2 linked regions of the Homo sapiens genome follow. The protein of the gene in region 1 interacts with the protein of each later gene in a pairwise test. Each region holds a gene or a part of one and is shown on either strand. Other genes may lie near its edges.

Region 1 (7,024 bases):
GGGACACTAGGGGAAGTTCTGCAGGGGACCCACACACAAGCAGCGTCCCAGCCACTCTGGGACACAGAGACAGGCTTTCCCTAGGAAGTGGCATCTGAGGAGGCCTGGAGGTTGAGTAGACATCATACAGGTTGGGGCGTGAGGGAAGGGTGCTCCTGGCAGCAGGAACAGTGTGCACAAAGGGGCTGGGGAGAGTGGGGCTGAAGGGAGCACAGACAGGCCAGCACTTGGAGGGAAGTTGGGGGCAGGTGCAGGCCAAGCTGGGTGGTTGGCAGAGCCAGATCTGGAGGGTACCTGACTGGAGCTGGCGGGCCAACGGGGAGCCTATCACTGTACCTAGGAGATGGTGAAGAGGAAGGGGGTGGTGCTGGCAGAAAAGAGAGGAGTGGGGGGATTCCAGAGAATCCAGGAATGGCATTTCCAGGGCTCCACGACTGGGCACTGGGGGAAAGGTCTGTTTCTGATGTCTGGTCGGTCTCTGGCTTGGATGGATAGTGGCGCCATGGATGGATGGTGAGCTGAGAGGAGGGCACTCCCGGGGAGGATGGCGATGGGCATCAGGTAAACCCAGGCAGGCGTCCCAGGCAGGACTTGCCTTTGCGCTCCCAGGTCCCCCTGCCTCCCTCTGGCTCCGTCCTTCTGCCCTCTACTCCCCTCTGCCCTGAGGACACCTGAGAGCTGAGGAACCCCACTGCCCTCTGGAACCCACACCCGGGGAGGGCACAGGCGAGGTGGCACCTCCCCTGGCCACCAGGCTGCGCAGCCAAGGCCGTTTCTGATCAGCCTGCATGCCTCCCTCTGGGCAGATGCAGCTGCCCTACTGCTCTTAGGGGGCATCTGCTGGGGTCCTTGCCCTTTCCTCTGCCCTGGACCCCTCTCAAAAAGGGGCCTACGTGCCTCCTGGAGCCTCCAGCCTGGGCTCAACTGTGGGGACCTGGGAGACTCAGTTCCCCTCTCTGTCCCCCGCTCGCTCCCCCAGGCCACCTTGAACAAAGAATCCTGCAGGTGCTGACAGAGGCTGGCTCCCCGGTGAAACTTGCCCAGCTGGTGAAGGAATGCCAAGCACCCAAGAGGGAGCTCAACCAAGTCCTCTACCGAATGAAAAAGGAGTTGAAAGTCTCCCTCACATCCCCTGCCACCTGGTGCTTGGGCGGGACTGATCCTGAAGGCGAGGGTCCTGCAGAGCTGGCCTTGTCCAGCCCTGGTAACTGCCACCCCGGGGAGGCGGGTCTGACCCTGCAGGGAGCATCCTGGCAATGGACAAGCACAGATTTGAGCCTGGGTTCGAATCTGAACTCTGCCACATGGGAGCTCACAGGTTTCCTCTCTCTGTGCCTTGGTTTCTTTTTCTGGTTGATGGAGCTCACAGCAGGGCTGCTTGGTAGGGGTTGCTGAGAGGAGGCCCTGCGTCAGGCTCAGCCCAGCCCTGCACACAGGAGGTACTCTGCAGAACACTAACAATTATAATAGAAAATCATCATGATGGAGACAGCAATGACGCCATGGTCCCAATCACAGAACATATGCAGTCCCACCAGCCCCCCTTTTCTAGCTTTACAGCCCACAGCCAGAAGGAGCTGCCATTTATCATGCACTTAAGATTAGCCAGGCACTGTTTTGGGGTTCACCCAGCCCTCACACAACCCCAGGAGGCAAAGGAGGCTGAGCCCCGGAGAAGTTAATCGGCAGGAAGCCGCAGCTGCCAGGGCGCAGGCAGGATTTGAAGTCAAGTGTGTTGAACTCTGGAGTCTGAGTTTGCAACTACCGGCATTGCCACTTACCCCTAGGGAGCTGCCCACCTTTGTGGGGTGGAGGCCTGGTGCTGTCTTCTGTCCCCCACCCCTCTGACCCATCTTTCTTTCTGCAGCCGAGAGGCCCCAGCAACATGCAGCTACAATTCCAGAGACCCCTGGCCCTCAGTTCAGCCAACAACGGGGTAAGTTTTTGCATGTCCCTTCAGTTCCCGGGACACAGGATCCCACTCCCCAGGAACCCCAGGCCCTCCTTGAGGGTACAAGATCTCACCAGTGTTCAGGGGCCCTGTCCCACCCACCAGGCAGCTCCCATACAGTGTTCAGAGCCAAGACCCAGCCCTCACAGTGGGAGAATCTGAATGGCTGAGCAGTGATTTCTCCAGTCAGACAATAGCTGACCCTCACCATGCACCCGCCACATGCCAGGCCCAGCGCAGAGCACTCTGTGCACATCCCCCACCCTCAGGGCACCTCTGCGGTGCGTCATGATGACCCCGTTATCATGACACCCATTTTACAGATGAGGAAACCAGGCCTTGAGGGGCTGGGTCCAGGGCCACACAGCTAGGAAGCGGTGGGGCAGATGCAAACCCTAGGACTACTCCCTAACCACCTGGCCATCCTGCCTCCCAGAGGAAGACATCTACAGGTTTCTCAAAGACAATGGTCCCCAGAGGGCCCTGGTCATCGCCCAAGCACTGGGAATGAGGACAGCAAAAGATGTGAACCGAGACTTGTACAGGATGAAGAGCAGGCACCTTCTGGACATGGATGAGCAGTCCAAAGCATGGACGATTTACCGCCCAGGTAGGCCCCCGGCTGCCTGTGTCTGGGCTGCAGAGGGAAACCATGACACTAGTGCTTGGTCTTTGCTGGGTGCTCTGCTGAGCAGCTCACCGGAAACTGCTAGAAGCTTCTGGAGGTCCTACCGACAATTCACTGCAAGGGCTTCCAGGAGGAAGGGGTGTGCTGGCAAGATTAACCAGGGACAGCTTTTTGGAGGCGTGGCCCAAGGTCTGCAGTTGCAGAAGGCCAGTGAATGGGACGGAGGTGGCCCATTCCCAATGTTCTCAGCTCTGGGGTGCAGGGATCAGTCTGAGTTTGGGAATGGTTTTCTTTGAGCACTTTGCTCAAGTTGGGGTTTAAAAGTTGGCAGAAGAGAAGGCAAGACTAGTCTTGGACCCCTACCGGCTGGAGCCCCAGGGTCAGCGCAGGGTCAGCTTCCCCGTGAGACCTAACACACACAGGGCCAAGATCCAATAGGTGCATGGCATTCTCAGGGGTCCTTGAAAATGTTTTAATTTTAATTTCATTTAAAATCAGAGGAAATGAATACTACAATAATAATGAATATCTAAAAATGGGCCAGGCACGGTTGCTCACGCCTGTAATCCTAGCACTTTGGGAGGCTGAGGCGGGCAGATCACCTGAGGTCAGGAGTGACCAGTCTGGCCAACATGGCGAAACCCCGTCTCTACTAAAAATACAAAAATTAGCCAGGTGTGGTGGTGGGCGCCTGTAATCCCAGCTACTCGGGAGGCTGAGGTAAGAGAATAGCTTGAACCTAGGAGGCAGAGGTTGCACTGAGCTGAGATCGCGCCATTGCACTCCAGCCTGGGCAACAAAAGCAAAACTCTGTCCCCCAAAAAATAAAATAAAATAAAATTTAAAAATCCAGCCTGGGTTATCCTTGCTATACAATGTAATTTAAATATTTGTGTATGGGGGAAGGGCCCACAAAGGCACAGGAGCTGAGACCCTGGAGGGTGGTGATGGGCCCCGCACAGTCTGGGCAGGTGCCTGCCTCAACCTCTGCAGGGCTGACTCTGCTACTCATGACGGGTGCCCGAGGGGGTCTCAGCATCCTAGGGCTGCTGTGAGGAAGGAATAACGCGTGACAGCCACCAGATTTTAAACACTAGTGACAAATTCAAATATTGAAAATGTCATGGGAGCCAAACACGACCGATCTGGCCCAATGGGCTGCTGTTTCTCGGCCATTACTCAAGGGAAAAGGGCAATGGTGCAGGTGCTCGGGGGTCCGGGCTGTGGCTGCCCCCTAGGGAGAGCAGTGTGGGGCCCCTGCGGTCCTCCCAGCCAGCAATCATGGCGGCCCAGCCATGGAGGCAGCAAAAGACACAGGTAGGGTGACTCACAGTGGCTATTTTCAAGTGAGGCTCCCTCTGAGGTACCTGTGGTGTCTGTTAAACACCCAGCTCTGGCCTCCCACTTGGCCCTACTGACTCGGAACGCCCAGGGTATTTTAACAAGCTCCCCAGGAGAATTTGGTGCTGCCGACTGGTATTGGGAACCCCTGACCCATAGACAGTGGCAAAGGGATACAGTTGAATATTATTTTGCAGAAGATTCTGGAAGAAGAGCAAAGTCAGCCTCAATTATTTACCAGCACAATCCAATCAACATGATCTGCCAGAATGGACCCAACAGCTGGATTTCCATTGCAAACTCCGAAGCCATCCAGATTGGACACGGGAACATCATTACAAGACAGACAGTCTCCAGGGAGGACGGTAAGTCACCCAAGAGAGCCCAGGGAGGGGACCTCGGTGGGGAGCCACCGGATCCTCTGGGTGGGGGCAAAGGGTAGGGATGGGGAGTGGGGGGATTCTGCCCTCCAAGGGGAAAGGGTTGCTTCCAGACCCCCACAGTCCACCTTTACGGCCGTCCTGAGAATGAGGACACCTGGATCAAAGCTCTCCTGATTTCCCTGTACTCTGATACTTTCTACCTCATTTTAAAGTTTAATTTAATTTTTATTTTTCTAATAAAATTTTAAAATTAAGATGGGGTATCTCTGTGTTGCGCCTGACCTTATGCCTCATTTTCAATGGGGTCCGGTGTTTTTCATGAGAAACAACTCAATTGCCTTTCCCTCCGCGGAATGCTACAGGGGAGGTTATTGTAGTACCGTATTTGTTCTGAGACACGCTACTTTCCCCCACATTTTAACAGGCTGGAAACTGGGGTGCATCTCACCACCTGTGGCATCCTAGTTTGGATGAAATGCGGTGTTGCACTTTGAGCACTTACCCTGTGCCGGGCACTGTGGCAAGAGGGGACAGAGCCACCTGTCAGCCCAGCCTTGTCACCTGTGAGTGACAGCATCAGCCCCAAAGTCGGGACACTCCCTGTAACCTTGGGAGAACCTTTCCCCACTGTCAGCCTCAGTTGTGAAATGAGGAACCTTGTTCTAGAATCTAGATCATGGTTTCCCTAGCTTTAATCTTCTGAGCCCCACCTTCCTGATTCTGGCCATACCCATGTCTGATTATTTAATTAATGTTGTTGAGTAGTGCACCTTTTTAAAAATTTATTTTAAAACAATTTTATAGTATTATTTTAAGTGTAAATCATGAAAAACACCATAAAAATAAATGTTGTCCCTGGCAGTTAAAACACTGCGGGAGGCTCTGAGCCTTTGGTGTTGGCACCAAACGAGACTTGGTCCCCATGAGGTCAGAAGGCTCGGGAGTGACTGGGAATCAGAACAAGGAGCTCATTGTTTGGGTTTGTGAGTGTCCCTGCAACACCCAGGACCAGCCCCGCTCCTGAGAACTCAGGGAGCCCCAAAATGAGCTATTCCGCCAGGTCCTCTTGCTCTCTAAGCCAGAGCCTGAAGTCTTTGGCCGCCAGTTCGATGGTGTCCAGGAAGAATTCAGAGGACAGGCCTGCGTGTGGTGGTGAGGGAAAGGAAGAAGCCTGCAGTAATCTCCGGTGAGGCTGTGCCACTGTCCCCTGCCAGGTTCCGCCGGTCCACGCCACCTCCCTTCAATGGCACCAGGTGATTCCTCAACTTGGGGGACCCTAGTTGATCCCTGGGGGCCCCAGGACATCCACATGGAGCAGTCCATACTGAGACGGGTGCAGCTGGGACACAGCAATGAGATGAGGCTCCACGGCGTCCCGTCCGAGGGCCCTGCCCACATCCCCCCTGGCAGCCCCCCAGGTAACTGGGATCTAGAGGCCAGACCCAACTCTGCCACCCCGTGGGTCCTCACTGGAAGGAACTGGAGCCAGAATCTTTTTGGGAAGAGAAGCATGATGGGAAATTCCTTTCCTTCCACCAGGCAGCTGAACCAGAGTAGAGCAGGTGGGGCTTTTAAAGCTAGCACTCTAGGCTGGGCGCGGGAGCTCACACCTGTAATCGTAGCACTTTGGGAAGCCAAAGCGGGTGGATCACCTGAGGTCAGGAGTTCGAGACCAGCCTGACCAATATGGTAAAACGTCTCTATCAAAAATACAAAAAAAAAAAAAAAAAAAATTAACCGGGCATGGTGGCTTGCGCCTGTAGTCCTAGCCACTCGGAAGGCTGAGGTAGGAGAATTGCTTGAACCTGGGAGGCAGAGGTTGCAGTAAACGGAGATCGCACCACTGCACTCCAGTCTGGGTGACAGAGTGAGACTCCATCTCAATAAATAAATGAATAAAATAAAGCTAGCACTCTGGATCCCCATCCCCTACGACCCACTGCAGGAAACCTCAGTTTCCTCATTTGTAAAATGAGCAGAGAAGCAGAGGCTGGGCCAACTGGAGCAGGGTGATGGTTTGAGACTGGAATGGTGTTTAGGGAGGATGGAAGACAGGTGCCGTACTAGGAGCTGTGGCTGCAGTGACCAGAGGGCCCCAGGCAGAGGCCTCCCCCACACTGGGAATGCAGAGATGGGCTGGGGGAGAAGAACCAGCAGAGAAGCCAGAGAGGGAGGAGGAAAGCAGAGGCCCCGGGAAAGGAGTCTCCAGAGAGGGGCCAGGCTGGTGAGACCAGGGAAGCATCTGTGGGGTTCAGCGAGAGGGATCGTGGTAACCTTGAGGGGGTGGTTTCTGGGGGCCAGGGAGCAGAAGAGGTCTCGGGGGTGGAGGGGGCGGGACTCAGTGTGGATGATTCTTCAGAAGTTTGGGTGGGAAAGGGCAGAGCCAGATGGCAGGAGCTGGGGCCAGGCTGGGAGCCCCCATAAGATTTCAACCAAAAGTGGGGGCCAGTGTTCCAGTGCAGTGGGAAGCAGGCAGCAGAGGAGAGAGGAGCTGAATCCCAGAGGAAGACACTGACGTCCAGATCAGCCGGGCGGGATCAGTGGGGCAGACCCACTGCGGGATCAGTGGAGCAGAAAGACGCTTCCCAGACAGCACAACAGCACGAGCGGAGGTGTGGCGGGTGGAGGTGTGGCGGGCAGGCACAGGCTGTGCTCCTGGGATGGTGTGGGCCACTGGTGGGAGATCTGGGGAGGAGGGTGAACCAGGCTGGGGGTCAGGGT
Region 2 (6,843 bases), on another chromosome or scaffold:
AATCTGGTGGGTGAGAAGTGATATTTCATTGTTAAGTCTGTATACTTTGTTGACAGTAGTGAGGTTGAACATCATATGTTCGTCAGTCATTTGGATTAGCTCTACTATAAATTGTTGTATTAGGGCTCTCCAGAGAAACAAAACCAATGTGTGTGTGTGTGTGTGTGTGTGTGTGTGTGTGTGTGTAATTTATTTTTATTTATTTTAAAAAATTGGTTCACATGATTATGGAGGCTGGCGAGTCCAAAATCTGCACGGTAGGCTGGCAGGCTGGAGACAAAGACAAGACAATGCTGCAATTCAAGTACAAGGGACTTCTGCTGCACAATTCTTCTTTCTCAGGGGAGGTCAATGTTTTTGTTCTATTCAGGTCTTCAACTGATTGGATGAGGACCACCCACAGTATATAGAGGACAATCTACCTTACTCAAAGTTCACTGATTTAAATGTTAATCTCATCTAAAAGTACTCTCACAGAAACATCCATAATAATGTAGGCCCAAATATCGGGACAATATTACCCAGTCAAGTTAACACTTAAAATTAACCATCACAAATATCTACTAATATATTTTCCGTTTTTCTTTTCTTTTTTTGAGATGGAGTCTTGCTCTGTCACCCAGGCTGGAGTGCAGTGGCATGATCTCGGCTCACTGCAACATCTGCTTCTTGGATTCAAGCGATTCTCCTGCCTCAGCCTCCCTAGTAGCTGGGACTACAGGTGCGTGCCACCATGCCCCGCTAATTTTTTGAATTTTTAATAGAGACGGGGTTTCACCGTGTTAGCCAGAATGGCCTCAATCTCCTGAACTCGTGATCCGCCCGCCTCGGCCTCCCAAAGTGCTGGGATTACAGGCGTAAGCCACTGCCCTCGGGCTTTCCTCATTTTTTGATTGAATTGCTTACATCTTTTTATCGCCTTGAATATTATTGTAATCAACCCATTAAATGTTTTGCGAATATTTTGCCCTCTTTTATATCCTTTATTTTTTTACCCTATTTCTCATCATTTTAAATTTTAAATTATTATTTTGAATACTTTATAATCAGTGAATCATTGAAATTGAGATGAAAATTTGGACACTGTCATTTTGATAATCACTTTTGAGTTTATAGTCTTCTAAGGTGATTTTAGGAGATTTTTCAATATTTATTTTCAATATGTATTCAATAAATATTTATAATTTTTAGTCATTATTCAATATTTATTTAAAATCAAATTGTTCTTTCAATTCTAATGAATTTTTGGAAGATGTTGAAATTAGATCTGCTCTTTTCCAAAGTAAGGAATCTAGAGCAAATAGTTCCCACATGTGGAAACTATTGTTAAGAGGTTTTAAAAGTTTAAACTACTCATATGTAATATTGGTTACAATGTTTAATTCTTAGAAGAACTAGTCGAATTAATTTCGGAATTTGTTTATTCCATACCACGTTTATTTTAAAATTTTTCTTCAAAATTGCTTAAAACATAGTCTAAGCAAATTGTTGAAACGTTGTTCTCATTCAATTTGACTGTCAATTTTAATTTTTAGTAAGTATATATATATGTGCTATTCCTGCTTGTCAAGCCAAAATATGAAAATTCAGTTAATGAGTAACAATATTTAAGCATCAGAGTCTGTTTTAAAACTGAAAAAAAAATGTATGTGTACTAAGGAAAAGCTTCAGCCTCTCAGTCTCATGCAATTTTCTATTCATTTAATTTTTATACATTACTTCTTATAACTACTAGCATCAAATTAGTATCTTGCTATATTTTATCTCATATTATCACAGAGGAAAAAGTACTGTATAATTATATATACCCTTCAGTATATGATTAATAGTCATTATAATTAATATTTTTAAATTAATTTGTGATTTTTGTTGCAGGATTCATTTTTTAGTAAAAGCTTTTATATCCTATATGTAAGATAACTCCCTATTCCTGTGATATAACTTGTGTTAGATTATGGGTTCTGGAAGGCAAGTAACAGACTTAAAAAAATTCACTTAACTTCCAATCATATATTGTTTTTATATTGTATATTCAGTTGGTGGACAACATGAGGGCTTTTGAGTTAGGGAAGGGAAAGAATCACTTAATACTGAAATAACTTATTGTAGGAGCCTGATGAATCTTTTCCTTTGGAAAGCAGACAGTTTTAGTGTGGTGTCATCTATAATAGGAGGTCTTGAGGACGTTAGAGAATCTTAGAACTCAATTATTATCCATGTTTTTACACCCCTTTCAGTAATGATTTGGAAAAAGATGTAAAAATTTCAAAAAGGGACAGGTGAACTGTGGGCTCTGCATAGTATGGTAATTAAAAGGTTGGGTTTTACAAACAGACTCAATAGTGCCAAGAAAAGGATGGGTGGGTTTTCGTTTTCCCATCTCCATCATATTCTCAATATTCCTCAAATAATAGCAATACTAAGATTAAAAATATACACGTAAATGGGAAGAAAAGCCTATGTAGAAAATTTTGCTATAAAATAAAGGGCTTTAACACAAATATTATTTCTAGACTATTCCCTCCCCTTAATCCCTATCAGCCCTCTAACACATTTGAAGCTCCTAATGAATAGTAGCCCCCTGAAGCTGCTAGGTCAAACTGCCTGAACTTGAAGACGGGCCTTCCACTTATTAGTGATTGAGTTACTTAAAATAAGAATGATAAAAACCTGCTTCATGAGGTGTACTCCTCACTTTATAACTTTCACCTGCTGCTATCTGTTCTATTTTAGGAATTTATCATTTTTTGAGGAAATTAAAAGAACAGAGATAAAATCCCTGTCATTTATAAAACTCACAGGATAAAAACAAAAAACCCCTCTGTCGTGGGTTCTTCTGTCCATATGTAACAATCTGTTTCATACCTGGATCTCATATATGAAAACCTAAATTATTGTATAAGATACACGAGAGTGGATTTATCAGACAAACGTGTATTTCACTAATGCAAGGAATTTAACCTATCAAAGACTTTCCCTATTTGCTGCAGAAAATTTTAGAAATGCAAGCAATAAAATCAAAATTTAAAAAAATCTTATATTTGGCATGTCGAAGAACTCTTATACTTCCAAAAGTGTAGTTATTTGTAGTTAGTGATGAACCTCTCTACACATCTTAGCCCTATGTAATGTTGGGGGTAGAAAAGGAGTTTAGAGATTTTGAGAAATCTTAGGCTAGTTGAAATACTTCAGAAACGTCAGGATGTTGAATTACCATCCCTCTGACTTAGAGAAATACCAACACTCGGGAAGATTACCATCAGAAACAACTTTGAAAAGTTTAATTTTGTCACTGTTTTTAAAATTAGAAATAATGTAAATAAAGTACTGAAACAAAGTAGTCTCACAATAAATAGTAGCTATTCCTGTCACTTGTTGCAGTGGAGGCCCAATATACATTGTATTCTCATATTTGTACTTCCTCCCAACATCTAGCGCATATTTGGCCAACATATAAATATTTATCGAAAGAATGAATGACATCAATGACAGGTTGGTAGCACTCCGCTGTCCGATGGTCCAGGTTAGGCCGTGAGGCCACGAGGAAACTACGGATAAAACAGTATCCAATTTGCCTATACCGCCTGCTAAACTACAAGTCCCAGTACGCAAACTCCATGGTTTCAGGGCATACTGGGAGAAAGTCTCCGGCTCTTCATTGGCCACGTAGGAGAAGCTGTGGTTTGTGTAAAAGCGCGGGCTTAACGCACGTACGCACGGAGACTGCGCAGATCTCCTCGTCTGAGTTCCGCGGAACTCATTTTGAGTGTAGGCGTTTTAGCCGGTAGGGTTTAAGAACAGTTTCATTTCCGGAGCCACCGGAAGCAGCTTGCAAATGGCGTCTCCCTCGCTGGAGCGGCCAGAAAAAGGCGCTGGAAAAAGTGAATTTCGTAACCAGAAGCCGAAGCCGGAGAACCAAGGTGATGTTATGTGGGAACCGAAGCCTGGGGTTTGTGTACGTTGAGTTGCGATGTTTTTTTCTTTCGTTCCTCGTGGACTTATAAAACCACCTGGAGCCTGTACTGTGTAGTTGAGTACCTGAATAATCGCTGATAAGATTTTGGCTGGGCCCACAGGAACGGCTGGCCGATATGGTGCCACCCAGGTGTTCCTAATTCATTGCTTTTGCTAAAGGGTCCCCAAAGCGAAGCTGTTGCGGATTACGTCTTTTGTAAAAGGATGAGTATTAAGAAAATGCCTAGGGCGACGCAGAACCTTGTAAGCCTGCGGGTGGCTGAAAGTCACTGACGGAATGAGGAATAGGGTGAGGTGGGAATAGGTAGTCATGATATACAAGAGTGGACCCTGATAATGGGGTGAGGTATGGGGAAAGGAGCTATCCGACATGTCCTTAGCTCTAGTTTGTCAGTAAAGACATTTTGAAAGATTATCAATTCCTGTTTGTCAGATGCTAAAATATTAGACGACACAGCCCTTACTGTTTAGGTTGTGTTACCTTTTAATTGTTAACTCCTGCGTTGTAGTCTGGTTTTACCCGTTTTCTTCAGTGTGAATGATAGAGAAGTCATAAATAGCCTGGGGATCTGTTCAACCAGGCTTATAGGAAGTGTTAAAAACATTGAACTCTCAATTTAGATGCATTGGGAAAGTATTCAAAGTTTCTTTGTTGTTGCTCATTAAATGATTATGTAACGTACATAGCAGGGGATACAACTTATATAGAGTTTAATAAAACCATGCGGGAAACTAGCATTCAGACTAAGTAAAATAGAGCATTACCATACCCCTCAAACCCTTACGTGCACCTCTCAGATCATATTCTCTTTTCCTGTATCAGACGTAACCACCCTGAATTGTGTTGCATTCTGTTCCTCTTCTTGTAGTCATGAAGTGGCTTAATTTAGCCTGTTTTTTAATTTTATATACATGAAAGTGGACCGTATGCATTTTTCTGTGTCTTCTTAGATTTAGCTTTTTGTTTTTCAAACAGGGTGATACTTGCGGGTGTAGTTTTAGTCTTTTCACTGTTATGTGGTGTTTCCTTGTATGAATATACCCCAATTTATTTTTTCATTTTACTATCGGTGGACATTTGGATTGTTCCCAATTGCTTGCAATTATAAACAATACTGCTAAAACATCTTTGTACATGTCTTCTGGTTAACATGTTCAAGGGTTTCTCTAGGTTGTGAACATAGGATTGGAATCACTGAAGTGTAGGGTGTGTGTAAGTAATGCTAACTTTTTTCCAAAGTGCTAGTGTCAGTTTTGTTCCCACTAGGAGTGGACGAAAGTTGTCATTGCCTTACATTAGTATGAATACATGTTATCTGAATTTTGAATTTCTGTCATTTTGGTAGTTATGAAATGGTATTTGGTTGCAGTTTTAGTTTGCATTTTCTGATCACCTATGAGGTTGCATATCTTTTCACATGTTTTGAGGCTTCCTTAATTGTGAAACTCCTGAGTATTTCTTTTGTCAGTTTTTTTCCTGAGGTTGTAGTGGGGATTTTAAAAAAAATTATCCATAGCCTTTGAAGTGTTTAAATTGGATAGGGACTTCGTCAGGTAAACATTGTAAGTAACTAGTTGCAGTGACTCACACCTGTAATCCCAGCACTTTGGCAAGCTGAGGAGGGGGGATTGCTTGAGCCCAGGAGACCAGTCTGGTCAACATGGCAAAACCCTTTCGCTACAAAAAAAAAAAAAAAATTAGCCGGACATGATGGCACATGCCTGTAGTACCAGCTACTTGTGAGGCTGAGGCAAGAGAATAGATCGCTTGAGTCCAGGAGGTCCAGGCTGCAGTGAGCTGGGATGGAGCCATTGCACTCCAGCCTGGGTGACAGAGCGAGGCCCTGTCTTTAAAAAAAAAAAAAAAAAAAGAAATGTGTATAGTATATAAGTAATCACTTTTGTGGAATTCGTGTTCTTTAAAGGACATTGGAGAATCCTTTATATGAAGACTAGCCAATTGTCTGTGATTTGAACCAGAAATAGCAACGTGGATGTGAGTATAAGCAGAAAGTTTACCTGTCTGAGGCTGCTAACATAGGGTAATGACGTGTTTTTCAAACTTTACCGTGCTTAAGAGTCTCCTGTTGAGCATGGTAAAACACAGATTCTTGTCCCTCGTCGAAGAGATTCTCATTCAGTAGGTCTGTAGTGGGGCCCAATAATTGCATTTCTGACAGACTTACAGTTTGTGCTGATACTGCAAGTCTATGGATCATACCTTTGAGTATAACTGAATTAGAGTATAGCTATTGAAATTAAGGAGTTCTTCAAATTCAAGATCAAGAGTTTTTTAAATAAATGATTCAGAAGATAATTTACGGCCCTTAGGAGGCATTTTCTTGTAGTGAAAGGAGTCCCAGGCTGAGTGAGCTTTGTGTTCCCTTAGGCAAGTCACTTAACCTTTTTAGACCATCTTCTATAAAATGAGAATAATAATACAGATTCTACCTTTTATAGTTACGATGAAAGGCGTATGGAAATAAGGCACTCAAAATGCTTAGGAAAATCTAGAATTACCAGTGATTATTAACTGAAAGATAAACTAGAATTCTCTTTCAGAAGTTTTACACAAACACATACATCCAGATTCCATACACTCCAGGAAAGTCAGAAAGGTTAATTGTATTTAAAATACTAACCAAAATGGCATTCAAATCTTCAATTTTATGATAGTGTAGTGCAGTACATGTTTCTGGAGTACTCACTATCTGCCTGGCATATGCCAACTAGTGTGAAGAGGGTTTCTGCTCTTAAGGAACTTTGTCATATGAGGCAACTGAAATGTGTACAGATAATTTTAATACAGAGAATTGATGATAATGACAGAGGAACGTTCTTTGACTCTTGAATAATATAAAAAGCAGG

The links. The genes of interacting proteins can lie anywhere in the genome.
Region 2: the proteins of ZBP1 (region 1) and KRR1 interact in binary tests that used the Homo sapiens proteins (3 or more experiments, as listed by UniProt).

What each region holds. Positions count from the first base shown.
Region 1 is NC_000020.11:57,610,424-57,617,447, reverse strand, and holds part of ZBP1 (Z-DNA-binding protein 1), read left to right. Parts: intron 1-979; coding exon 980-1,204; intron 1,205-1,867; coding exon 1,868-1,936; intron 1,937-2,387; coding exon 2,388-2,561; intron 2,562-4,117; coding exon 4,118-4,285; coding exon of another isoform or gene 4,286-4,362; exon of another isoform or gene 4,363-4,557; intron 4,558-5,363; coding exon of another isoform or gene 5,364-5,380; exon of another isoform or gene 5,381-5,517; coding exon 5,518-5,721; intron 5,722-6,752; coding exon of another isoform or gene 6,753-6,915; intron 6,916-7,024.
Region 2 is NC_000012.12:75,508,590-75,515,432, reverse strand, and holds the start of KRR1 (KRR1 small subunit processome component homolog), read left to right. Parts: upstream 1-3,823; 5' UTR 3,824-3,835; coding exon 3,836-3,920; exon of another isoform or gene 3,921-3,955; intron 3,956-6,843. UniProt on the Homo sapiens protein: Part of the small subunit (SSU) processome, first precursor of the small eukaryotic ribosomal subunit.